4 linked regions of the Homo sapiens genome follow. The protein of the gene in region 1 interacts with the protein of each later gene in a biochemical or structural test. Each region holds a gene or a part of one and is shown in the gene's direction. Other genes may lie near its edges.

Region 1 (7,028 bases):
TGCAGGAATAGCTGCACGTACATTTCATTCTCATGCAAGCCATTTATCATGTTCCCCACCAATACTGCTGTTTCCTAACTAGGCTTAGACTTACACAACCCACAGCTCTTAGATCTATTATGTCTATTGTGTTAAATTAAACTTTTATAATGTACATCAGTTTCTGTCCTAACACCCAGATATCACCATTATTTTGTTCTTTCTGAAAACATATAATTATTAGATATGCAGTTTATACATTTTATCAAAGACTGGTTTTATGTGCAATTGTTAAAATGATTGCTTTCTTTCCTAGATTAGCAAGTATTATATGCCACTATATAATACATGTTCACATGTGCCTATAGATATAGGTGCACATGTATAGACACATGTCTATATCCTATTAAGCCTAGAGATATTTTTTTGTGTGACCCATTTCTCCATTTTCTATTGTTCTCCAGGACAAAGGCAAGACTCAAAAATAGTATATGATTTACCTCTACTATTGCTCTGTGCACAATCATTGAAATATGTATGTATAATTTTTGGCATGAAAAAGCAATCTTTCGAAAATGACAATAAGAAATGTCTGTTGATCCCTTGCACTAATGAACAATAGAAAATATTAACAGCACTTGCAGTACTAGTTGATTATGGCATTGGCTAACTCGGTTTATGTGGATTCTAATGAAACATTTGGGAGAAATGGAACAAAATATCTCCCTGAGCTTAAGTGATATACTCAAAATGCCTGCATGTTGTAAGGATTTTTCAAATGCTGAAATATATTTCATTACAGCCAAACATCAGCAGGATCCCCAGGGTTTGGATCATTTGAAAATACTGTGTTCGAAAGGGCACCTTAATAACATTGTAAAGCTGGAAGGAAAGAGGGGATATGAACAATAGACACTTTTTTTAATCTCGGGGAAAAAAAATCCATCTCACGTTAGACTTGTTTTTATATTGGCTTTCCCTCTTCCCTCTTTCTCTCTCACACAATAAAATGCCTTTGAAATGCTGACACATAAATAATTTCCTACCTAAACATCTCAGAGCCTGATTCCATCAAAAAGAAAGGAGTAAAAAGCAAGTTACAGCCCAGCAGCACATCTGCTTTCCCTGGGTCCGGGGGCTGCCAGGAGGGAGCGGGAGGTCTGTCCACCTCACAAGGCAGGCTCTGTCAGCTTTTGTCACTCCCTGATTTCTTATTCTTTGTTACCTTTTTTCGCCTGACTGATTTTTACTTGGCATTTAAGTTCCCCTTAGCACTGCCAGATTCTAAAAGGTTATATTCTTTTTAAAAAAGAAGAGAAAGAAAGAAGGAAAGAAGACAAAGAAAGAATAAAAACCTCCGAGTGTTAACTACTTTTTCCTTTCTTCTTTTTTTTATAAAGAATACATTCTTTCACATCTTGAATTTCTGTGAATTTTAGTTTCCATTCTTTCTCCTTTCAAACCAGACACCTAAATTATACGTCGAAGACTGTTAAAAAGTTGTTTTTTTTTTTTTAATGGAAAATATCCAAGAAGCAGCCCAGGAGTATCTGACATGGTGGAATGGAATCAGTTAGAAAGCGAAGAAATCACTAAAAAAAGTTACTTCTTTTTTTCCCCACCAGTTATAATCTTCAACCTTACTAGTTTATAACAGTTTAATGTCCTATAGAAGGATCCTCCACTAAAGTTATAATTTTAAGTATAGTCATATAGAGAGATCCCTAATCCCCTGGGTAATCTAGATACTAAAGGTGGGGAAGAACAGTCATATTGACATTCTTTAATCCAAAACCACTGTTTGAAATTAGTAAGGATATTTTCAGCATTCCCAAAAACATGTTATTAGCACGTTGAGCTGAAAACGTTTTTCTTCCTCAGTGAGTACAGAAACCAAAGCAGTCTGCGTGTATGTCTATGTATAGACTGTATCGTACCTGGGCTCATGGAGTAGTCTAAATTTAAAACGTCCTCTCTTCTACCTCCAATGAAAATGTTTCCGTGTGTGGCGTCTGATCTTCCACCGTGTGTGTGGTCGTCTGCTGGTGTAGCGCTGTTTAAGGAGCGCTGTGTGCTGCTAGTGTTCCACGATGTGTGTGGTCGTCTGCTGGTGTAGTAGCACTGTTTGAGGAGCACTGTGCGCCGCTAGTGTGGGTTTACACTTATGAGTGTTGTCATTACATGTGTTCTGCTCTTCTCTCCCTCTCCTGCCCCTGCCCTGCTCCATCAGAGAGAGCTGCAGGTCTCTGCTGCCGCCTAGTAGTTCCCTGTCACAAAGGGATGCCAAGGCTTACCGATCTGTCTGTCAAAACCAAAGATGTCTGGGAAATCCCTCGAGAATCCCTGCAGTTGATCAAGAGACTGGGAAATGGGCAGTTTGGGGAAGTATGGATGGGTATGCTGAGACTCAATTACTCTCTTATTAGCTTCCCCGTTTGGAAGATCCCAAACACCAAAGATGGAAGGTGAAAATAAAGACTGCGTGACCGGGAAGAAAGTTTGAATTACTAATAGTGGGGAATAATAATTTCAGTTTTGGTTTTAACATTCTGGAATTCCTAAAAAAAAAAAAAAAAAAAAAAAAAGATAGTAAGTGGGCAAAATTGGCAAATGGCTCAAGTTGTACTATTACATGACTCTCAATTCATAAACCAGCAAATGGTCCAAGGAATGTTCCAGCTGCCATAAAATATCTTGCTCTTCATTTCCAAAAGCAAATATTTGTTGAGTGTCATCCTAACGGGCAAGTCACCTTCCATCTTTCCTAGTGCATGCATAATTATGGATTATAAGGACTGTGTTTTCTTTATTAATTCCCTTTCCTGTAGAGAAAGCTGATGGTTTGTGTTTTAACTTAACTGTGATTGCATCGAGTTGTACCCCACAAACTTCTGGATTGGCTAAAGATGCTTGGGAAGTTGCACGTCGTTCGTTGTGTCTGGAGAAGAAGCTGGGTCAGGGGTGTTTCGCTGAAGTGTGGCTTGGTAAGGCAGAGGGCACATTTTGTTTTGGCTGCATCTCAAAGCCGATTAAAAGGATGGTTTTGAACAAAAATGCACACACAGCCGTTGGGACAAAGACACTTAACCTGGATAACTAGACGGGCACAGGCCATCCAGATTTTCAGAATATGCTGATACCTTGCTGTGCTCATCTGTCCTACTTCATGTGGTTAATTAAGGCACCCGCAGAACAGGAAACCAGTACACTATGAATCTGGTGTTTCCTCTTCCTAAGAAATGGGAAGGTAAGATACTGTATATGGGCAGCCATAAGAAAGACCATGGACGTTTTGCTCAATGGGCCTGGGTTTGAATCCTTACTAGCTAATTAACCACGAACAAGGGGCATATTTAACTCCTTTAAGCCTCAGTTTTTTCATCTGTAAAATTGGAATGATACCTTTTTGTTGTTGTTGAGACGGAGTCTTGCTCTATCACTAGGCTGGAGTGCAATGGCGCGATATTGGCTCACTGCAACCTCCACCTCCCAGGTTCGAGTGATTCTCCTGCCTCAGCCTCCCGAGTAGCTGGGATTACAGGTGCCTGCCACCACGCCCAGCTAATTTTTGTATTTTTAGTAGAGACGGAGTTTCACCATGTTGGCCAGAATGGTCTCGATCTCCTGACCTGGTGGTCTGCCAGCTTCATCCTCCCAAAGTGCTGGGATTACAGGCGTGAGCCACCACGCCCGGCTGGAATGATACTTATTTAAAGGATTATTTTTAGGATTACATGGGTTAATATGTTTAAAGTCCCTTGCAGATAGTAGATATTCAGTAGAGATACATACTTCTCTTTATTTGATTGTCATTGATAAGGCTGGCTGCACTGGGCCTTTGTAATTTCTTTTATAGCCCTTTTGGGTCAGTTACAGCTTTGCTTAGAAACAATTCATGGGTTTAGGCCCCACTCAAAAACATGTTTCAGTAAAACAATATTAATACTTATGGAATCCTCTATCTTCCTTCCTCAGAACTCATTAAAAACAATATCGATCAGTACCCTTTGCTACGTGTGGGTATAGATCTTTAGGTGTGGTCTGCATTAAAAGAGTTAATACAGGTGGCCGGGCACAGTGGCTCACACCTGTAATCCCAGCACTTTGGGAGGCCAAGGCAGGCAGATCACCTGAGGTCAGGAGTTTGAGACCAGCCTGACCAGCATGGAGAAACCCTGCCTCTACTAAAAATACAAAATTAGCCGGGCATGGTGGTGCATGCCTGTAATCCCAGCTACTCAGGAGGCTGAGGCAGGAGAATCACTTGAACCTGGGAGGTGGAGGTTGCGGTGAGCGGAGATCGCACCATTGCACCATTGCACTCCAGCCTGGGCAACAAAAGCGAAACTCCGTCTCAAGAAAAGAAAAAAAAAGAGTTAATACAGTTAAAGCACTTAAAACATAGCCCAGCAAATGATAAGTACTACAAAGATGTATGTAGGTATGTTAGGTGGATAAATAGGTAGTAGACAGACATACACATATATATGTATGAGTTAGCTAGTTTAATAAATCCACATTATTGTGTCCATCTCTCTCTGGACTTAATCTCAAGTATCGTAAAATATATGACCTCCTTCTTCCTCATTCACCCTCTAATAATAGAGGATTTTAGTCAAATTACTCACACAATCACAGAGAATTGGACCCTATTAGAAAATTTATTTTCAAATTTTACAAATATCAACTTTAAATCATTACATATACTGTTCACATTTTGTTTTCCAATAAACACAAGACAACATGCCCATCAGAATTGGGATGGATGTCTGTGTAATTGACGAAGTTTGTATTACAGAGGAAGATCTTAATGTATTTAGAATTTTGGGTGCTGACTCTTAAATAGCAAAGATCACTTATAAATTGTCAAATTTCCCATGAATGCTTAGTGGGCAGATATTTTATGAAGTTTAAATGAACTTTTCTTTAAGCCACTTGTTTTTTCATAATTTATATTTTGTAGGTTGCATGTTGTAATTGTATGAACCATGTCTTTAACAGGATAATAAGAACTCCAATTTACAGAATCCTTAAATTCCAAAGTCAGTTATATTAAATATAAAAATCTTAATTTAAACCAGTCTTCTTTTTCAAATAGAAAATAATCTAAATTAGCAGATTTCTTCCCCTTTATAAAGTTATTCTTAAGCATCATAGGTCTAATAATGGAATACACAAAGAACCTAGGTATGGTTTTGTTTTTTGAATGCTGGGGCTGAAAGAGACCCAAAAGATAATCCAGTTCCATTCCTATATTTTACAGATGAGGTAACTGAGGACAATCATAATCCAGGCCTTGCCTTCAGATTTGCTAGATTTTTTTTTAACATGCTAAATTTAAATATTTCTGTTCCCTCTCAGCTGCTGTTTAATTTCCCCTGTCTACCTACCTGACAGAAGCCATTGTTCTTGTGGCTAGCCATCAGTAAAGCTGAGGAAATTTGCCTTACCTTGTTGAAGTATTGGCAAGCAGACTGTGAGCTCCTTGCCAGTGCTTATCAGCATGCTTGGCACACCTGTGCAAGGACTCAGTCAAGTAACTTGTCCATTGCAGACATTGAAAGTCTAGAGGTAATTTCCAGACATCCTCATGTGGTGCCATATTTTTAAATGGCACACCCCATAAACTTAAATAATCTAATTTCTTCCATGCACACTGTACTCCCTAAGGGACAGCTATTAGATGGCCAGGCCTGTTCCAACCCCTGGACTTTCATCACTGTATGGTGCAGAGCTTTTGGTATAAATGTGTAATCATATGACTGAGCCAAAAAAAGAGAGAGTGGTAATATATCAAAATTTAAAAAAATTTTAATGAGTTATAAATCTTAATATAGCCATCTTAGCCATAACCACAAATAAACTCATTTTTTCTGTTAAAATACTTGACAGAGTCCTTGCAATTGAATGTCTTTGTTCAACAAAAACTGTATTAAGTGTTTTAAATTTAAAATCTAATCTTATGCAAATAGCTGGTGGTCAAAACCTTTTTCCATCAAAAGAAGATCTTTGGTTTGACTTCATATTCTGGGATGTTTGTAGGTACCTGGAATGGAAACACAAAAGTAGCCATAAAGACTCTTAAACCAGGCACAATGTCCCCCGAATCATTCCTTGAGGAAGCGCAGATCATGAAGAAGCTGAAGCACGACAAGCTGGTCCAGCTCTATGCAGTGGTGTCTGAGGAGCCCATCTACATCGTCACCGAGTATATGAACAAAGGTTGGGCAACACCTCTCCTGTCTCCAGCTCACAGTGCCTTAAGGGGTTGTTTAGGGGAGAGAAATGGAAGTTTCCTACTTGCTACTTTTCTAGTTTCTGCCTGGGTCAAGTATTCCCATTAGGAACCACCAGTTATGTGCTCGTTAATGAAAACATTTTTTAAAACAGACTAACCTTGCGTTTACCCCACCCCAAATCCTTATGAAATGCCAAATACTTTTTACATGTTATGTGTGTCAGAAATTCAAGCTCCTCTCCATAATTAAAACATTCATTTTTAATATCAGGGTGGTACGGAGGGTTATGATAGTTTGCTGTTATTTTGAATGTAGTAGCTTTTGTTACATTTCCTTTTTGCAGGGCTAAACAATTAATATCAGACACTGGTCTCTAAGCTAAGTTTAGTCTCCATCATTTCAACATCTTTTTTATTTCCAGCTCTCTTCTTAAACGTCAGGCGATGAAATTACATGCTTTCAGAGACCACATTTATTCTCACATTCTCTCCCCTACAACCCCTCTGTCTTCCTAATCAAACCAGCATTGTTAGGGATAAGGCCAGAGATCATTTTGTTTTGGAAAAATAGATGAACCAAACAAGAAACAGCCTTAAAAGGCAATACATTGTTTATCAGAGGATACCAGTGTAATTTTTCTTTTCCATGTACTTTCTTTTAAAATTTAATGGGAATTTTTTTTTCTGGCAAACGGTTTGTCCTTTGTATCCAGGGTTATTTTGTAAATAACTTTGTGATTAAAGCATAAAATATCACTGATGACCATCATAAGCCTCCAGCTTCTGCAAATGATTATCCCTGCTTTGGTGT
Region 2 (7,028 bases), on another chromosome or scaffold:
AAAATTTTATAAAAGTCAGCTCTTCCTTGCTTAAATAAAGTGTGCCCCCCACAAACACACACTCATCAAGAGACAATAGGAAAAGCATGAAATTAGAAGTTAGAGGCCTGGCGCGGTGGCTCACGCCTGTAATTCCAGCACTTTGGGAGGCCAAGGTGGGTGGATCACCTGAGATCAGGAGTTGAAGACCAGCCTGGCCAACATGGTGAAACCTTTTTTCTACTAAAAATACAAAATTTAGCTGGGCGTGGTGGCAGATGCTTGTAATCCCAGCTACTCAGGAGGCTGAGGTAGGGAGAATTGCTTGAACCTGGGAGGCAGAGGTTGCAGTGAGCTGAGATTGTGCCACTGCACTCCAGCCTGGGCGACAGAGTGAGACTTCGTTTCAAAAAAAAAAAGTCAGAAAAGGCCTAAAGGCCTGAGTTTGGGGGTTTTCTAAAATTTTTTATTAATTTTTTTTTAGAGACAGGGTCTTGTTCTGTCACCCAAGCTGGAATGCAGTGGCGCCCATTATGGCTCACCACAGCCTCCAACTCCTGGGCTCAAGTGATCGTCCTGCCTCAGCCTCTCTAGTAACTGGGACAACAGTTGTACGCCACCACACTGAGCTAATTTAATTTATTTTTTTTTTTTTTAATTTTAGTAAAGATGGGATCTCACTCTGTTGCCCAGGCAGGTCTCAAGTTCCTGGGCTCAAGCAATCCTCCCACCTCGGCCTCCCAAAGTTCTGGGATTATAGATGTGAGCCCCTGTGCCCAGCCAGGCGTGGGTTTTTAATTCTTGTTCTGTTACTTTAACAATTTTATGACCTAGAGATAGTTATTTAACCTCTTTGAGTTTTTGTTGCCTCAGATGTAAGTAACTCAGTTCACTGAGTTATTTTTGAGGATTAATGAGGTAATAGTTCTATGGTATTTGATATATAGTAGGCATCAAATAAATATTCAGCCCTACCTGGGTAAGGTGGCACGCACCTTTAGTCCTAGCTACTGGGGAGGCTGAGGTGGGAGGATCACTTGAGCTCAGGAGTTCGAGGCTGCAGTGAACTATGATGGTGTCACTATGCTTCAGCCTAGGCAGTAGAGAACCCATCTCTTTAAAACAAACAAAAAAAAAGGCGGGGGGAGCATAGTAGGTCACGCCTATAATCCCAGCACTTTGGGAGGCCGAAGTGGAAGGATCATTTGAGCCCAGGAGTTCAAGACCAACCTGGGCAAAATAGGGAGACCCCATCTCTACAAATAAAAAAAATTAGCCAGGCATGGTGGCACGCGCCTATGGTTGCACCTACTGGGGGTGCTGAGGTGGGAGGATCGCCTGAACCCAGGAGGTTGAGGCTACAGTGAGCCATTATTGTGCCACTCATTCCAGCCTGGGTGACAGAGTGAGACCCTATCTCAAAAAAAAAAAAAAAATTCGGCTCCTCCTTTTTTTTTTTTTTTTTTTTTTTTTTGAGACAGAGTCTCGCTCTGTCACCCAGGCTAGAGTGCAGTGGCACGATCTCAGCTCACTGTGACCTCCGCCTCCCGGGTTCAAGCAATTCTTCTGTCTCAGCCTCCCAAACAGTTGGGACTACAGGCACACGCCACCATGCCCAGCTCATTTTTGTACTTTTAATAGAGATGGGGTTTCACTGTATTGGTCAGGCTGGTCTCGAACTCCTGACCTCAGGTGATCCACCCGCCTCAGCCTCCCAAAGTGCTGGAATTACAGGCATGAGCCACAGCGCCTGGCCCCCTCCACCCTTCTTGAAAGCTCGAGTAGCTTCTTAGTCTTCTGCTTGCTTCCTTTTCTTCCCTCTCCCTCTCCCTTCATCCCCTCCCTGCCTCCCTTCCTGCCCCCTCCCTTCTTCCCTCCCTCCCTTCCCTCCTTCCTTCCTCCCTTTCTCCCCTCTCCCCTCCTCTCTCCCTTCGATACCCAAGCTGGAGTGCAGTTGCACAGTCATCATAGTTCACTGCAGCCTTGAACTCTTGGGCTCAAGCGATCTTCCCACCACAGCCTCCTGAGTAGGTAGGATAATAGGCAGGTACCACTACACCCAGCTAATTTAAATATATATATATATTTATTTATTTATTTATTTATTTATTTTTGGTAGAGACAGGGTCTCGCTGTGTTGCCCAAGCTGGTCTCAAGCTCCTGGGCTCAAAGCAGTCATCCTGCTTCAGCCTCCCAAAGCACTGGGATTACAAGCGCATGTGCCACTGTGCCCAACCAGTCCTTTGCTTTGTAGGTTAAAATTCTGATTCTCTTTTCAACCCTCTGTTTTATTTAAATGATCCTTCTCTGAATTCTCTAAAAATGCTTTCCTTTGCTTTTTTGAGACAGGGCCTTACTCTGTCACCCAGGCTGGAATGCAGTGGCATGATCTTGGCTCACTACAGCCTCCAACTGCTTATCCTCCTGCCTCAGCCTCCCAAATAGCTGGGACCACAGGCGCATACCACCATGCCTGACTAATTTGTTATTTTTTATAGAGAAGGGGTCTCACTATGTTGCCCGCTCTGGTCCCAAACTCCTGGGCTCCAGTGATCCTTCTGCCTCAGCTTCCCCAAATGCTGAGATTACAAGTGTGAGCCACCATGCCTGGCCACTGCTATTCTTTAAAAAGTTGTGAAATAATTGGACAGAAGGATTCTAAGATCTGAGTAGTTCAAAAATAGAAGAATCCATGTTATAGAAAGGTCTTATACTATCACACTGGTCTTTAAGAAATGAAAAAATGAAAGGCCTTAAATTCACAGAGTGCATTACATTGCATATAAACACACCTTCTTGTAGGAGTATAGCAGATGAACAGACTTTGAATCGTCTTGCACTGACCAAGGTTTCTGGAAAGTGGTATAAAATACAGCTGAAAGGTCTAACTCAATGGTAGCCCTCGGAAGCACAAAGCGACATAGATAAAATGAAGTATCTAATTTGTTCCACATTCTTTTTTGTTGTTGTGATGGAGTCTTGCCCTATCGCCCAAGCTGGAGTGCAGTGGCGCAATCTGAGCTCACTGCAGCCTCTGCCTCCCGGGTTCCAGCGATTCTCCTCCCTCAGCCTCCTCGGTAGCTGGGATTACAGGTGCACACCACCACGCCTGGCTAATTTTTATATTTTTAGTAGAGACGGGGTTTCCCCATGTTGACCAAGCTGGTCTCGAATTTTTGACCTCAGGTGATCCGCCCACCTCAGCCTCCCAAACTGCTGGGATTACAGGCGTGAGCCAACGCGCCCGGTCTATGTATATATTTTTTTAGTAGAGATGGAGTTTCACCACGTTGGCCAGGCTGGTCTCGAACTCCTGACCTCAGGTGATTTGCCCACCTTGGCCTCCCAACGTGCTGGGATTACAGGCATGAGCCACCTCTCCTGGCCTGTTCCACATTATTAAAAGCTCCTTGGTGATGTTCTCAGATCAGAATTATGGCATCTTTGTTCTTCTAGGACTTTGAGGATTGAATAACTAAGTTTTCCAGTCTGAGAACTTAGAAAGTGGTGTAGTCAGGTACAGTAGGCTCAAAAAGATTGATCAGAAAAAGTATATTAGCAGTAGGGGAAAAGAAGTAGAGGTCAGGATCTGCCACCAAACAGTAAGGGTTAGGGTTAGGATTACCCTCACAAGTAGACTGTTGAATGAAGCATTACTCTGTTAACTGTAAGGTCAAATTTGTTTTCTATTCCAAGCACTGAAACAGGATTGTGAAGAGCACTGTCATTTACAGTTCTTCTCATAGGAGTAAAGGTTTTTAATTAAGGATATTTACAATTCATCAGCAATTTTAATTGTCAGAAAACCAGGAAGTATGTGTCTATTAGTTCATGGTATAGTATAGCATCTGAAATTAGGCTTTTTAACAAACAAGCATTCAGTCTGAAATTCTAAATTCTCTAAGGCATGTCAGAGTCAAAGTTATTTTTCTTCGTCTATATATTTCACAGCTGCACCTCTCTAAATATTTATTTTAAAAACTGTTAGGCCAGTACGGTGGCTCACATCTGTAATCCCAGCACTTTGGGAGGCCGAGGCGAGTGGATCATCTGAAGTCAGGAGTTCGAGACCAGCCCAGCCAACATGGTGAAACCCCATCTCTACTAAAAATAGGGAAAAAAATTAGCCGGGCATAGTGGCGCATGCCTGTAGTTCCAGCTACTCGGAAGGCTGAGGCAGGAGAATCGCTTGAACCCGGGAAGCAGAGGTTCCAGTGAGCAGAGATTGCACCACTGCGCTCCAACCTGGGTGACAGAGCGAGACTTTGTCTCAAAAAATAATAATTAATAAATAAAAACTGTTAAGGGTATAGATTTGTGGAACGTGTTTGAGGTAGGGTGTCTTTATACTTCAAGCCAATGGTTTTCAAAGTATGGTCCCTGGACCAGCAATATCAGAATTACCTGGGAACTTGTTGGAAATGCAAATTCCTAACACAAATCCCAGACTGGCTTTGAAGCCCAGCAATCTAGTTTAATAAGCCCTCTTCTAGGTGATTGTGATGCATGAAGAAGTTTGAGAACCCCCGCCTTAAAATTATAGAAGATGGGAATGTTATGTAATATTCTATTACAGACTATTCTCTGATATTTAGAATGTTCCACTGATTTTAGGGAGTATATATATATACACGTATATATATATACTATATATACTTTTTTTTTTTTTTTTTTTTGAGACAGAGTCTCGCTCTGTCGCCCAGGCTGGAGTGCAGTGGCGCGATCTCGGCTCACTGCAAGCTCTGCCTCCTGGGTTCATGCCATTCTCCTGCCCCAGCCTCCCTAGTAGCTGGGACTACAGGTGCCCACCGCCACGCCCGGCTAAATTTTTTTTGTATTTTTAGTAGAGATGGGGTTTCACCGTGTTAGCCAGGATGGTCTCGATTTCCAGACCTTGTGATCCTCCTGCCTCAGCCTCCCAAAGTGCTGGGATTACAAGCGTGAGCCACCGCACCTGGCCTATTTTTTTTTTTTTTAACTACTCTCAGTGGATCATATAAGCTTTCAGTTGCTACTCATCCTTGGGCACTCTGCCCTCATCTCTATTAGAACTCCTGTTATAGTACTTTACTTCATTGCCACCTCTATAGTCTGGGAACTCCAGTATATAAACAGTGAAGACAAGAGACCAGTCTGACTCGCTCTATTGTATCTCCTGTGCTTTGCAAGACAGATGTCTGGCTCTTATTAAGTCCTCCATAGTGGTTAATGATTGTACCTATTATAGCCCTCCCTTCATCTGCCTCTCCATACTATAGGAAGCACTCAAACACTTGCAGTCACTCAATGAATGAAGTTCCTTAATGGTAGGAAATCTTTTTGTATGCCAAGTTTCTATCTAATGAAACTGTCTTAACCCGCGAATTGAAAGTACTTTTAGGTGATGATGGATATGTCTGTGCCCATGATGGTGGTGATGGTTTCATGGGTGTATACTTATCTCCACACTCATCATTGTATACATTAATTATGTATAACTTTTTACATATCAGTTATACTTCAATAAAATGTTTTTTTAAAAAGTACCTGGTGGCTGGGCGCGGTGGCTCACGCCTGTAATCCCAGCACTTTGGGAGGCTGAGGCAGGCGGATCACCTGAGGTCGGGAGTTCGAGACCAGCCTGACCAACATGGAGAAAACCCTTCTCTACTAAAGATACAAAATTAGCCGGGCATGGTGGCACACACCTGTAATCCCAGCTACTTGGGAGGCTGAGGCAGAAGAATTGCTTGAACCCAGGAGGCAGAGGTTGCAGTGAGCCGAGATCATGCCATTGCACTCCAACCTGGACAAAAAGAGCGAAACTCCATTTCAAAAAAGAAAAAAAAGTACCTTGTGCATTTTGTATCATTTAGGCATTGGCTGAATTTGGGCTAGATAACGGTAACGATATATTAAGTACTTTATGAAAAATTGGCCTTAATTAGGCATATCTACGTATTTTATTAACTTAGGTCACACGACTAGTGAGTAGCAGAGTAAGAATAAGGTCTTTCAGACTCTTAAGGACTAGTATCTAGAGTACTAATGTCACCGTGGAACTTTAATGGAACTATCCATTGTATATTTAGATTATTTACTTTTGTTTTTTTCAAGGTAAGATTATACTTTGTCTTGATGCAGATTTTGATTTTTTTGTTTGTTTCTTTATTCTCCTTTCCCCCATCTCACCCAATTAATTTTGTTAAATTGATTTAAGAAACATTTAAATGTCTCTGTTGTCATGGCTTCAGGTGAGGGTGGAAGAGTACACTTCTTTTATTAGAAGCAGGCTTTGGGCTTTCTAGTCAACTTCATATAGCTTTAGTGCTTTCAGCTAGTTTCTTTCTGAAATTGGCACATTTGTGTGAACTATTTGGTTTCACTATATGGTATTCCATGTTATTGCTTTAAGCAGACTTCAAAATTTGCATTTATTTACCAGGGCAAAAATAAATTGTTTTTCCTATTCAGAAATTGAGAAGATTCAGAAAGGAGACTCAAAAAAGGATGATGAGGAGAATTACTTGGATTTATTTTCTCATAAGAACATGAAACTGAAAGAGCGAGTGCTGATACCTGTCAAGCAGTATCCCAAGGTAAGGCAAAAAGTGCTTTGGATCTTTGAGTTATCTTTATAGTTATGAGAGAGTCATGGGCTATAATAAAGACTCCTGGGGATTGTGATGCTTTAGAAACTTAAGCCTGTGAAGCTTCTCTTTCATGCTTGTAGTACCTGTTACTGAGAGTTGAAATATCTAAGTTCTTAACTAATAACATAGCTATAGCCAGGAAGGAAATATAATCATCTTTTTATTATCAAAAAGTTTCTTTCTCAAATGATTGCTCAGGCTACAAGTTCAAAGAAAAAAAAATTAAAACCTGAAGAGTTGCTCTTTGTCAAAAGACTAACCTGAAATCTAAATAAAAGGAAATATAATATGAATCCTCAATTGGTTGAAGTTAATTTTATTTTCTTACTAAAAGTTTACTTTTAAGTAAATGCTTTTTTTCTTCCTTTTTTTTTTTTTAGGAAAGCATTTAGTTACATTTAGTTTATCCAGCGTGTT
Region 3 (7,028 bases), on another chromosome or scaffold:
TGGGCATTGGATACAGCAGAACATGCCAATTTCTATGGCTTCTCATGTGACAGAATATACTTACTAGGATGCAATTAAATACTCCTCAGAGTATGTAAACAATAAATGTAATCATTACATTATTTTTATATTGTTCTTTCTTATGCATAATAGTAAGACTGAAAATATAGTGTTATTTCTGAAATATGCATATTGTTTTGCTTTTGATGATTAAATAACATTGTCCAAAGTTTTAGGTTTTTTGAAATCTTATATTTTTTAACAAAATATCTAGCCTTTCCAAAACAAGACCTCAATAATTCGTTTAAGACCCAGAGTTGTTCCTCTCCACATAGATCTCTTAAAAAGGCAGAGGATTTATGACCTCAAGAGAAATCAGAGTATCCAAAGTTTGCTTTAATTCAATGTTTTAAAAATAAAATTCCTTAGATTTTATCAAAAATTGAGATTAGTTTGATTTTGAATCAGATGCCCTTTGCTCCCCACCCCAAAATGGCATTATGAGCAGACTAGGAATTGATAATAGAAAATTGAACATATGAAATATATCTTTACCTTGCTTTTTAACAAGGTATTCATGTCTATCGCCTTCATTTTTAAGTGCATCAATAAAATACATGGTAATTCTCTTAGTGAAATATACTATCTACACTATGTACACACTCCCCTGTCTGAGGTAGAGAAGTAGAGAATATTCACATTTTTGAAACGTCTATGCTATTTTTATTTAAATACGAGTTCTGGGCTTGATTTCATTTTGGAACACGGGTGTGTGCTTAAGTTGAACCTTTTTTTCCTCTTAAGTCAAAGTTCTTTTTTAGTTTCTTCTTTTATCTTTTTGGCTACTATCTCTCTCCTTCATCCTCCTGGTGTGAGTTGTTGAGTGAAGGTATTAATTCCATTATTTGAGGCTAAGTGACATTGTTCAATAATGCAGCAAAACAATGGTTCTACCCAAAATATCTTCAAGTGTAAAAGCAGTGGGCAAAAGAGAAAGTGCGCTTCTGCTGCTTTGAATGTTTAAGGCTGTGAAAGTTGATCACACAAATTGGGTCATTCTTGTTATACCCAACTAAAACAATCAAGAAGCCTGGGAGGAAAAGCATTCAAGAAACATCACATTGCTCCAAAAGTGTAATTTTCTACAAGTCCGCATGCTGAGGCTGCCTGTTGTAACCTGGGACCAATTTTTTCTGTAACTGCTGAAAAAACTTGCTGCAGCTCTAGGACTAATTTTGCCCACCACTGTCACTCACCAATTGAAGCTTACTAGCTCCCCAGAACCTTTCTAGTGCCAATGAACTTTCTCAAAGAGCAGCGTGTATCATTTCTCTTTTTCAGAACACCTCCAACCTCCTCTTTGTTCTTTGGGTATACCAAAGACCAACCAGCCTTGAATTTCAATTTTTCTTCCCACATAAAAGTTTTAATTTAGAAATGTATCTCTACATTTCTAACTTTGACAAAGCATAGATACCAGATAATTGATGAAACCTTGCTATTTTAACGATCACCATGGATTACTTCCCAGTGTCTTCAGATAACCCTCAACATTTGCCAACATTTGATGGACTTCAAAATGAGCATATCTTTTTTAAAAAAAATTATTCACACTGACAGCAAGTACATTGGTATACTCTATATTAAATTATACCACAGGGTTTACAAACAATTGGTGATGTCGGGCAGTGGTTTCCAAGGAACATACTTAACAAGACACTCACAAGGCCCTACAAACCTGCATTTTTAACAAGGGCCCTAGATGATTCTAGAAGAGTGTGGTTTGGAAAGCAATTTTTGCCTTTATTATGTGTCATTTTAAATATATTTAAAATTAAAGTTATAAGTCATAGAATTGAATAAAGATAATTTCCTTACAGAAAGTATTACTAGGTATCTAAATACAATATGGTTCAAAACAGGAAATTTAAAAAGATTATGTAAATTCTGTAGTTGTATTCCTAAAGACAGTAGCTGAAATTTTTTCCTACTTCTCCTTGTATCACTTCCCTTTTCCTTCACTTTCACTTCCCTGGAATTGTACTTCCCAATAAGCTATTAGCAGTGAAGGAAGCTTCGTCTCATGATCTGTTTTATAGAGCACTTCAGCTGGGACGAGTACGAAATGATAATCAGTTATATCAGCTATTCAACCCTACAGGTTTATTTAAAAAGAACTTGAATAAGCTTTTTAGGGAGAAAGAGGTCAGTCTCAGCCATTTCTGTTTCCTAATATAGCTTTTAAGTCTTTCCTTATTAGCAATGAGGGTCATTCCATTGTAATTTTTTGATAACCATTTTTCTTTCTGTGTGTCAAATGCAGATATAAGATACTGAACTGAGTCTATTTCACTGTTCGTAAAACAATCCCATTTGAAAAAAAAAAGTCTACAGCTATTCCAGGGATAGGGCCTAGTAGAGAGAGAATAAAAGGTATTTTCTTACTATGTCTCTATATCCTACCCTGTAGGTTCTCTTATTAAGCATACAGGCATATACCAAAATCCAGACGTTTTTCTCATTTATTTTATTGCCCTAACATATTCTGGGTTAATATAATATCATAATGAAAATTTGAGAAAAAATTGATTTTTTCAAAAGTGTTTAACATTTGTTATATTGGTAGTTTTTTTTCTTGTTTGTGGTAAAAATAAATAGAAGGTGCACTTCACACCTTCAAGTATGATTATATTTTGAAAACAAGTCATGAATACTCATAAAATGCAAATTTTAATGTTCTTTTTTTGTTACAGCCAAACTATATTAGGCACAGTTGTAAATTGGAGTTGAAATTTAATATTTCTTTATAGATAACAATGTTTTTAGAAATAGGTTTATGAAACAGTAAATATACAGGTATAGGGATAAAATTGTGTCTGATGGTCATATGAAGTGTTTGTTGTTATATTCTCCTTGGAATAGCTGCCAAATATTTTAGTATGCTTAAAATCTACGAATGTGATAGAGTCAACAAATTTAGATCACATATTCAGAAAAACATAGTTAGAGAACTAACTATTGAAATGAGCATACAGCAGTCTTCCTTTATCTACAGGGATACATTCTGAAACCCCCACTAGGACACCTGAAATTGCGGATAGTAGCAAACCCTACATATACTGTTTTTTCCAATGCTTATGTACCTATGAAAAAGTTTAATTTATAAACTAGGCACAGTAAGAGATTAACAACAATAACTAATAACAAAAGAGAACAATTATAATAATATACTGTAATAAAAGTTATGTGGGTATGGTCTCGCTTTCTCTTTCCCTCTCTCTCTGTCTCTAAATATCTTAGTATTTTGGGGTTGCAATTGGTGGTGGGCAACTGAAACCATGGAAAACAAAACCACGGATAAAAGGAGACTACTGTATATACTTTTTAAAACTGATGAAATATTAAACTCATGTTTCTTCTATATCCCACCCATTTCCCCCACCCAAACCTAGATAGATATCTTATTTGATCTGTAAACATTTAATTAATTTGTAAAAGTTAAGAACTTTTTGAAGTAAAACTGCAATATATCATCACACCTAAAGAAATAAACAATAATTCTTAAATATCAAGTCAGTGTTCAAATTTCCCCAACTACCTCATATGTGTTTTCCATTTGCTTATGTAGGGTTCCCAATGAGAATGAAATAAAGTTCTTAGGTTGCAATTGGCTAATGCTCTCTCACTTCTACTTTAAGCGGCAGGTTCCCACTAACTTCTTTTTAGTTGCAATTTACTTATTGAAATTAGACGTATTCTTTGTCTTGTGTAGTTTCTCACAGTGCAAAATTTGCTGATTGTAGCCACTGTTGTAAGCAATGAACATGTTTTTCACCACCTTATATTTGCTGTAAGTTGTCAGTGATAGTTAAATGTTAATCAAATTCAAATTCGGATCACGTAGGGCTTTTCTTTTTTTGTTTTCTTTTTCTATTTATATATTTATTTATTTATTTTGAGACGGAGTCTCACTCCGTCACCAGGCTGGAGTGCAATGGTGTGATCTGGGCTCACTGCAATCTCCACCTCCCGGGTTCAAGTGATTCCCCTGGCTCAGTCTCCCGAGTAGCTGGGACTATAGGAGAACCACCACGCCCGGCTAACTTTTTGTATTTTAGTAGAGATGGGGTTTCACCATGTTGGCCAGGATGCTATAGATCTCCTGACCTCACCGATCATGTAGGACTTCAATTGTCGAACAAACGAACCTTTAATAGCAGTTACACCATTAGGATGACCTGATCCAACATCGAGGTCGTAAACCCTATTGTCGATTTGGACTCTAGAATAGGATTGTGCTGTCATCCCTAGTGTAGCTTGTTCCCACTTGATGAAGTTATTGGATCAGTGAACAATAGCCCACTTAAACTAGTACAGTCTTAGTTTAAGATGGTGATGTGTATGTACTTCCATCAGAGGGCACATAATACAGTAAATCCTCACTTAACTTCATCAATAGTTTCTGGAAACTGTGACTTGAAGCAAAACAACATATAACAAAACCAGTTTTACCATTGGCTAATTGATATAAGCAAGAATTAAGTCCTATGGCAAATTTCTGGACACAAAAACACCATCAAACTCCTAAATAAAGATAAATCACTTCTGACATTAAACATTGAAATTAATGTGAGCTATATATACGTTTAAGAAAGATTAATACAAACAAGTCAAATAACTTACCTAATTATTTCGGTGGAGGCCGCAGGTGGTTGGAGCCTATCCTGGCAGCTCAGGGAGCAATATGGGAACCCACCCCGGACAGGACGCTGTTCCATTACTGCAGGGTGCTCTTGTACACACCCACTCACCCAGGCTGGAACCATGCAGACACACACACTCACCTAACCTACACATCTGTGTACATCCTTCAAAGTTCAGCCAAATAACATATAAACAAATCCAGTAATATCCATCAGTCTTAGTTCCGTCATAACAACTCCTTTTTGATCATCAAACAACAAACAGGGTAGGTCTGCCATATTTACTTGTCTGGTCCATATCAAAATTTTCTAACAAATTATATTAGAAAATCAAATCTCTGTCAGTTTCAAAATCATGGAAAAAAATTTGCCTTATTTCCCTTATACTTGGATATCCTAACAGTAATCTAAATATTAATGAGAAAGTTAATGATGTCGTTTCCTTCTCCCTGTTGTAAAGAAGGTTTTGCTGTCCCGTTTGATCACTAAGACTAATTGACACTCAGAAAAAGCATAGGAAACTTCTCAGCATCACAAAAGCTCTGTCATCTAGAGAAGCTAGGACTTGAGCTCAAGTCCTGTGACATGGAAGGCCTTGTGCCTAGCCATCCTGCAGCAGAGGCGTATCTACCAAGAAGTGAAACACTACGAAAACAGTATGTTTACTCCACATTTTAAAGTGAGGTAGTTTGGGGTGGTTCATATTTTATTTAATTTATATATTATTTGGATTTTTTTTAGTTTATAAAAAGGGCATTGGCAAGGGCAGAATGATCTGTAAGCTTCTCTGCCCACCTACCATAAGCATGATCTTTAGTGTGACCTTTTCTTACTGTTAGCCATTTTCTTATACTTCTGCGTCCCTGTCAGTCACTTCCATGTGAAGACATGGGGAAGCTTTTTTACATCAGACATGTTGTTGAAAATCAGCCGCGTTGGCTGAGGGATTATTTGATCTCTTTCTCCAAGTCCCTTTAGGCTCACATTGCCTCTCTGTTCTTTGAATTTTCACTTACCTTTATCTTCTTATAATTACTTTGCTGAAATAAATGCAAAGCAACAAAAGGTATTTAGTGAAGAATACCAACAAAGCCATGACCATTTCAGGCTGAGTTTTGTAGTATTCTTTGTCTAGGAAGAGATACCTAGAAAAATTTTCTGACCATGTATTTGATTATTTTCCTTCAATATGTATAGTCTCAGTCTTCAAATTTCAGAAAAGAATTTGTTTCTTCATTGTCATTTAAAATTAATGTGTTAAATATGTATGCTTTTACATTATAAGTGGTTATAAAAGTTAAACACTTAGAAAAAAAGTCAAAATAACATACATACTATCCAACAAAATAACTTTCATATTTTATTGTGTTTTCTTCCAAACTTTTTACCTTTGCGTCTGAATTCTGTGTAGGTTGTATCTATAATATAGACAACACTTTATAGCCTGCTAAATATTATACCATAAATAGGTAGTTGTTACATAATTCTCAGGTAATAGTAATACAGGTCTTTATCATAATCTACTGAGTAGTTGAATGATAATTTTTTTTAAGACAAGGTCTCCCTCTGTCACCCAGGCTAGAATGCAGTGGCATGCACATGGCTCACTGTAGCCTCTACCTCCCAGGCTCAAGTGATCCTCCTGCCTCAGCCTCCCAAGTGGCTGGGACTGTAGGCATGTGCCACCATGCCCAGCTATTTATTTGTATTTTTAGTAGAGATGGGGTTTCATTGTAACAGCCCAGGCTGGTCTTGAACTCCTGGACTCAAATGATCCACCTGCCTCAGCCTCCCAAAGTGCTGAAATCACAGGAGTGAACCACTGCACCCAGCAATAATTTTTTAACTCTTCATTATTCATTGAACATTTAGTTAACAATTCTAAAAATTTTGTTTCCTGCTGTCATTGATCTTGTGAAAAATATCTTTGGACTATAGCTGTGGATTATTTCCTAAATAGTAAATTACTTGAGCAAAAAGTTTACATACTTTGAGGGTTGATAACCCATGTTGCCGCAATGTTTCCCCGGAGGCATTGTGGAGTTTAGAATGCCAGTAGTAATATTAAGGTGTGCCATTTTCAAGATCCGTGGCCAACATCCCTATATGTAAGATTTTTCCAAAACATGGTTCTGATTTTTAAAAGTGAAAAATGCTACTTCATCATGTTCTTTTTGTGCTTCTTACTTTAAATATTAGAATGAAGAAGGAGCCCCACAGGAAGGAATTCTGGAAGATATGCCTGTGGATCCTGACAATGAGGCTTATGAAATGCCTTCTGAGGTAGGAGTCCAAGCTGAATCTTTCTAACAAGACAGTACCAAA
Region 4 (7,103 bases), on another chromosome or scaffold:
CTCCTATTTTGTCCTCCATATAAATTTGCTCCCAAGTGTCACCCAGGTCCCTTTGAATCTCTATGGCTCGTAAGCCCCCCCCTCCTCCTCAAAGAGATTGTCAGCTCTGAATATTTCTCCTTTGTCTATCCTCAAGGAACCTCTGGTTCCAGAATCAGAGATTCTGCAGGTGTAATTGGGGAGGGTAGAGCAAGACTTAGCAAAGCTCTTCCATTTAAATTCCCAGCCTGTGGGAGCCACCAGCCTTTGATTTATTTATTAAGTTCATCTCTCAAAGGCAAATATTATTTTCTTTAGCATTCACAGAACTAAGATCTACTTGTAACAATTATTTCTCCTTATTAATAAGGTTTGGAAATACCCCAAAACATAATGGGTCCCTGTTATTGTACATAGGGTTGTTTTATTTTTCCATGACTTTGCCAACCTGTGATGTTTGGTGGCATTACTGAAGATCAATATGAGTGTTTAAAGATGCTCTCTTTGACTCTATTTCAGTTCAGATTCTCTCTATGCCTGGAGGATAGCAGGAGAGTTGGGGGCAGGTATGGTCTTCTAATTTCTTCTGTTGCAGAATGAATCAACAGAAGCAGCAGGGAAGAAGGAGATGTAAAAATACAGCATAATTCTTATTGGACAGTGCTGGAAGTTCCTGTGGGAGTTTGAGATAGAAAAATCGAGAGGTACTAGTCTGAAATGGAGAGGCTCATCAGTTCAGGGTAGGATCTCAGAGAGATACTGGATGTCAAACGTGGACTTTGCACTTTCCCCTGCAACCTCTCTCCCTCTCTCCACTTTGTTTGTCCTTAATGGAAGAAGGTCGATTATATTAAGTCTACAGATGAATTATTTGGGGAAAGATTCACTAAATTTACAACATCTTTTGAGTGCCTACCTTGGTGCTAGGGACTATTCTAAGTGTATCAAATGCTTTGACTCATTTAATCCTCCCAACCCCCGTAAAGCAAGTACTATTATGATCATGCTTATTTTTATAAATGAGAAAACTGTGGCACCGAGGAGGGAAGGTGACCTGTCCAGTTCACACAGTTAATGAGCAGAAGAGCTGGGATTGGAAGTCACATAGTTTAACTCCAGAACCACCCACTCCCAACCATCATGCAACACCACCTCCCCATCCAGGATATGGTGTATTTTTCCCACTTATTTGAATCTTTGACATTTTCAGTAGAATTTTTATAATTTAAAAGATATGGGCCATGCACGGTGGCTCACGCCTGTAATCCCAGCACTTTGGGAGGCTGAGGCGGGCAGATCACGAGGTCAAGAGATCGAGACCATCCTGGCCAACATGGTGAAACCCCATCTCTACTAAAAATACAAAAATTAGCTGTGTGTGGTGGCATGTGCCTGTAGTCCCAGCTACTCGGGAGGCTAAGGCAGGAGAATCACTTGAACCCAGGAGGCAGATGTTGCAGTGAGCTGAGATCACGCCATTGCGTGCCAGCCTGGCGACAGAGTAAGACTCAATCTCAAAAAAATAAAAAATACATATATATGGTTCTGGACAATTTTTCTTACAGTTATTTTGGGATTTTCAAATAGTTTTTTTGTTGTCTATATGGTAGAATTCTTAAAATTACAATTTCTGATTATGAAATTTAAAGTTAGTTGAATTCATAACGATGAATAAAGTCACATGTGAGTTCAAAAGCTCGTTAACTCGTGCACTGTCTTGCTAGTCTCATCCCTTGCACTGTTTAAGAGTGGAGAGTGGGATGTGAGCAGGAGTGCCTGGTAAGGAGGCAGTAGGAGCTGACGCTAAAGAGCCTTGGGTAACGGTAAGAAGCTTGCCTTGCTCCTGAATCAAACCTTCCAACAGAAGGCAGGGAAGTGAGATCATTAGGTTTGTTTTTTAAAAAGCATTTTTCTTATAGCATTTTACTGGGTGATTTGGGCTTGGGAAAGGTCGGTGGCAGGGCACCTGTTAGGGCATTATTGCAGTATTTCAAGTGAGAGATAAAGTCTGACCCCAGGCAACAGCAGTAAGAAAAATGGGAGTAGCGAGGATGGGGCAGGGGGGCAGTACACTGAGGGGAGGGTAAGGAACAGGTCTCAGGTAAAAGCGACAGTCCTGGGTGACCAGTTAAACGTTGGGGGAGAGGAAAAGAAAGGAGATGAAGTTGCCACCAGAAAGAGTGGCCTCAGGAGAAAGGGGTTGTACAGGGTTGGGGATGGGGTGGGATGGGCAGAATGTATCAGAGAAATAGTACCCTTGGGGTTGGTGTGGTACAGGTGAGTGGGCCTGAATGATAGTAATGGAAATCCCAAAGCATGATATAAAAACTAACGAAATTTGAAAAGTAATAAACATGAAAAAAATGAAAAATTTTGATTTATGGGGGATTTATTTGGCTTCTATTGGAGAATGATTAGGACTGAAGCTAACTACTTGGAAGTTATTGGCATATAAATGGTATGTGAGGCCAGAGGAAATGGTGAGATGAGCCCAAGTAGAGAGGCCAGCTTTAAACAACAACAACAACTACCAAAAAAAAAAAAAAAAAAAAAAAAGCAAAACAAAGAAATAGGACACAGAGTTAGATTTGAATGTCAGATATATGATGAATAATTGTTTAGTATATTCCATGTTTGGACATGTTTAAGACCTACTTGTCCTAAAAATAATGTATTATTTATCTGAAATTCAAATTTAACTGGGCACCATGTATTTCATCTGGCAACCATAACAGGGGCAGCACACAGAAATGTTGGCAGGGACCAGGCAGGCCTTTCAGATAGTGAGGTGGTGTGTGAGACACAGGCCAGTGGTGGAGGCTGGGTGACCCAGAACTCCTGTCTCTCATTCTCAGGGGCAGCTGCTACATACTTCCCACTGATTGGGTTTGCAGAGATGGCCTCGAGGGTGTCTGATATTCTGATATTTCAAAACAGAATAGAAATATGTATTTTAATGTGTATTTAATATATATATTTTAAAATATTTTTAATGTTGATATTAAAAGTGGTCAGTTGGGCTCAGTGCAGTGGCTCATGCCTGTAATTCCAGCACTTTGGGAAACTGAGGCAGGAGGATGTCTTGAAGCTAGGAGTTTGAGACAAGCCTGGGCAACATAGCAAGTCCCCATCTGTACAAAAAAAAAAAAGAATAAATTAGTCAGGTGTAGTGACTTATGCCTATAATCCCAGCTACTCAGGAGGCCAAGGCAAGAGGATTGCTTGAGCCCAGGAGTTTGAGGCTGCAGTTAACTACGATAGCACCACTGCACTCCAGCCTGGGTGACAGAGTGAGACTCTGTCTCTATTTAAATAAATAAGTAAATAAATAAACTGGGCAAACAATGAAAATGAAAACATTGCGAAATACAAAGCAGCTCTGTGGGTTCCACTGGTTTGCAGCCTCTGATCTAATTTCTAAAGTGGGTGTAGCAGGTTTTTAACCTGTAAATTATGGTGATCGGCAGGTCAGGGTAAATGGTAGTTGTGTGTGGGGAAGAGATGATGGCAACAGATGTTTTCCTCCTGCAAAAACTAAAATGTGGGAGTGACTTCTCTGGCCATGACTCCATGGTCTCTCCCCTCAGAGCCATTTTCAGTAAAATTTTTATAGTTTAAAAAATACGGTTCTGAACAATTTTTGTTAGAGTTATTTTGGGATTTTTAAATAGTTTTTTGGTTGTGTATATGGTAGAATTCTTAAAATTATACAATTATAATGTATAAAAAAGCATGCAATTATAATTCATAAAATTATAGCCCCACTGACCATTCTCCTGTAGCTGGGAGCAGTTCACACTAACAGGGCTATACCCCCATGCTGACCTGCTCTGCAGGATCCCAGGAAGGTGAGCATAGCCTACTAACCTGTTTGGGTAGCACAGCGACAGCAACTGAGGCCTTGAAGGCTGTTATCAGAAAATTGTGGGCGGAAACTTCCAGGGGTTTGCTCTGAGCTTCTTGAGGCTTCTCAGCTTCAGCTGCAAAGTGAGTGGGTGTTTCTTTGAGAAGCAGAATCAGAGAGAGAGAGATAGAGAAAGAGAAAGACAGAGGTGTTTCCCTTAGCTATGGAAACTCTATAAGAGAGATCCAGCTTGCCTCCTCTTGAGCAGTCAGCAACAGGGTCCCGTCCTTGACACCTCAGCCTCTACAGGACTGAGAAGAAGTAAAACCGTTTGCTGGGGCTGGCCTGACTCACCAGCTGCCATGCAGCAGCCCTTCAATTACCCATATCCCCAGATCTACTGGGTGGACAGCAGTGCCAGCTCTCCCTGGGCCCCTCCAGGCACAGTTCTTCCCTGTCCAACCTCTGTGCCCAGAAGGCCTGGTCAAAGGAGGCCACCACCACCACCGCCACCGCCACCACTACCACCTCCGCCGCCGCCGCCACCACTGCCTCCACTACCGCTGCCACCCCTGAAGAAGAGAGGGAACCACAGCACAGGCCTGTGTCTCCTTGTGATGTTTTTCATGGTTCTGGTTGCCTTGGTAGGATTGGGCCTGGGGATGTTTCAGCTCTTCCACCTACAGAAGGAGCTGGCAGAACTCCGAGAGGTAAGCCTGCCGGCAGACTGCTGTGCCCTGGAGGCACCAGGCATAAGGGGATGGAGGGCCCACTGCCTGGCTTGCAAAGTGCTTTTCAATCCTTTTTTTTTTTTTCTTAGAAATGGGTTGTTCTAGTTATTCTATTCTATAGACAGAGAAATGGAGGCTCATAGGGGTGAAGGGAATATTTTTTACTTTGTAAAGAATCAGAGCCCAACAGTTTGTCTTTCCTCAGTTGTCAACTCAGTCTGTTGAACCACTTACTGCCTCATACCTATTGATTTAAGGAGTAAAAAACAAACAAACAAAACTTTTAAGTTTTGCTTGGAAGTAAATTTGTTCAGATGACCAAACTAAATCTTGAAAATTGGTACGATTCCAAATCACAAAACTGAGGGACAGTGAGGCAAAATTGCTTGGCCAAAGCCCAAGTTAGCAGAACTTCTGAGGTATTTGGATTCTCTTTCCAGGGCTTGGTTTATTTGACGATTCTGCCTCTTTTGCTTAAAGAATTTTATTTTTATTATACATCTTTTCTCTTTCTGTTTTACTAGTCTACCAGCCAGATGCACACAGCATCATCTTTGGAGAAGCAAATAGGTGAGTCTTTTTTCGCATGTACATTGAGTTCCCAAAGATGATCCTCAGCACAGAACTATGTTAATGGAATGCCTTAAATTCTGTCCCACACTTTGGTTTCTGTACACTATAAGAGGAATTCTGGCTAATTCAGAATCTCTGGTCTATGATTCCTTGAGCTGCTTTAAAAATGTGAAGTGAATTGAATTGCTCACAATCAATATAGCTGAGCACTGCACACAATTCAAAATCACTTCCACTTGACTTTGGAAAGAGACACACATATACAACCCTGGACCTTTGCCCCCTGAGAAGTGGCTCCAGGCCTGTCCCCTTCCACAGACATCCTGGTCCTGGCACACACGCCAGTGGCTGTAACTCCTGGGAAGAGAAGGCGAAATGAAGGCAGAGACAGATGTTTCTGAGAAACGTCCTTTCCTCTTTTAAATGCCCTAAAGAGATTACATTGAAGCTTTATTTACAATATGTTTTATAGGATGTAAGCTTTTAAAACATGGATAATCAATTCCCCACATTAGAATGGTTTTTCTTGAAGTCACTGAGAAGCTTAAGGGAAGACTTCAGCCATCATTCAAAGGATGTTCAGCTTCACCCACAGAGGCAGTCATGAGGTACCCTTGATCACAAAGGAAAATCCTTTGTATGGGAGCTAGGGCAAGAAGATGATAGGTTGAACACTGATCTCATGAAATTTCAGGGCATAGTTGTGCAAGCTCTGTACAGATAGATTTTACAGTGTGCTTCACTAGTCTAAGATTCATTGAAATTTTAGATTTAGATTTACAATGAGATTCATTGAATTTTTAGAGGTGGAAGGAAGCTTAGAATATATCTAGTCCAGCCATTTCATTTTTTGGAAGAGAAACAAAATACCAGATGGATTAGGTGAATATGCCCAAGACCACTGGTATGCCATTGGGGCTAGAAGGAACACAGGCTCTTGATGCCTTGTCACCTACAGGGCTTTCCAGTACTGGACTGGTGCCTCATGAAGGAGGGAAACTCCTGTCTCTCTGTAGTGAGCATGGAATAAGAAATAGATGAAAAGCAGGATACCTCTGCAAAGACTATAGGTAGATCTCATCCTTAGAAACTCAGAATAAAGAAGAAGGCAGCACTGGCCATCTATTAAGTGAAGCAAGTTCCAGTTTCTCCGGATGTGGCTACTGCACATGACCCAGTCGCCTGTCTACTATCCTAGACTGTTAAGTTCTTATATGAGCCACTGTTGGGATGCTCTGGCCCCTGCTTCTGTGTCCTAATCCTTAAATGTTAGAAAGTCCATATGTACACAAGCAGAGTGGAAATATTTGATAGAAAAGTAAAGCCTCTGGAGGACGTCTGAAATAAGATCATTTTGAAAATCTGTGGAATGTGCCTGGTCTGATAGGTATCTAATTATTCATCTTTCACCCACTCTCTGGAGTCAATTTAGTGATTAAAAGTCAAATGATCAGGTGAGTCAGATCCATCTACCCCAGTAAGCAATTATGTTCTCTAGATCAACCCAAATAAACCAGAAATTGGTAAATCATCACATGGAAATCAAATCAGTAACTTTACTAATAAGAAAAGAGATGCAAATTAAAAATAGGGAATACCAATTTTCATCAAATTAATAAAGATTAAAAAAAAACCCAGACTGACAAAGATTTGAGAGAAAAGTGCCTGTGCAAACATTAGTTTCAGCCAGTATACATGTAAATTGCTATAACTTTTTTTGAAGAGCGCTTTAGAAATACATAGCAAAAGCTTGTAACTAGTAGTTTACGTTGTAATCCTATCGCTAAGAATTTATCTTAAGAAAATAATCAGAGATGTGCCCGAAGATTTATATATAAGGATGTTCATTACTTCCTTATGAGCCTATTTATAATAAATAATTCAGAAGAAACTTGAATGCCTCATACGAGATTAGTTATATACATTATGGTGTATTCAGACAAGCACATAATAAGCAGCAACTAAAAGTGATGTAT

What was found.
Region 2: the proteins of FYN (region 1) and KHDRBS1 form a complex in vitro, tested with the Homo sapiens proteins (4 studies listed by BioGRID and IntAct, with this or other methods).
Region 3: of the proteins of FYN (region 1) and SNCA, one has a biochemical effect on the other in vitro, tested with the Homo sapiens proteins (3 studies listed by BioGRID).
Region 4: the proteins of FYN (region 1) and FASLG form a complex in vitro, tested with the Homo sapiens proteins (4 studies listed by BioGRID and IntAct, with this or other methods).

What each region holds. Positions count from the first base shown.
Region 1 is NC_000006.12:111,695,450-111,702,477, reverse strand, and holds part of FYN (tyrosine-protein kinase Fyn), read left to right. Parts: intron 1-2,209; coding exon 2,210-2,374; intron 2,375-2,807; coding exon of another isoform or gene 2,808-2,963; intron 2,964-6,021; coding exon 6,022-6,201; intron 6,202-7,028. UniProt on the Homo sapiens protein: Non-receptor tyrosine-protein kinase that plays a role in many biological processes including regulation of cell growth and survival, cell adhesion, integrin-mediated signaling, cytoskeletal remodeling, cell motility, immune response and axon guidance.
Region 2 is NC_000001.11:32,023,866-32,030,893, forward strand, and holds part of KHDRBS1 (KH domain-containing, RNA-binding, signal transduction-associated protein 1), read left to right. Parts: intron 1-6,432; coding exon 6,433-6,557; intron 6,558-7,028. UniProt on the Homo sapiens protein: Recruited and tyrosine phosphorylated by several receptor systems, for example the T-cell, leptin and insulin receptors. Once phosphorylated, functions as an adapter protein in signal transduction cascades by binding to SH2 and SH3 domain-containing proteins.
Region 3 is NC_000004.12:89,729,152-89,736,179, reverse strand, and holds part of SNCA (alpha-synuclein), read left to right. Parts: intron 1-6,902; coding exon 6,903-6,986; intron 6,987-7,028. UniProt on the Homo sapiens protein: Neuronal protein that plays several roles in synaptic activity such as regulation of synaptic vesicle trafficking and subsequent neurotransmitter release.
Region 4 is NC_000001.11:172,655,017-172,662,119, forward strand, and holds the start of FASLG (tumor necrosis factor ligand superfamily member 6), read left to right. Parts: upstream 1-4,086; 5' UTR 4,087-4,185; coding exon 4,186-4,533; intron 4,534-5,078; coding exon 5,079-5,124; intron 5,125-7,103. UniProt on the Homo sapiens protein: Cytokine that binds to TNFRSF6/FAS, a receptor that transduces the apoptotic signal into cells. Involved in cytotoxic T-cell-mediated apoptosis, natural killer cell-mediated apoptosis and in T-cell development.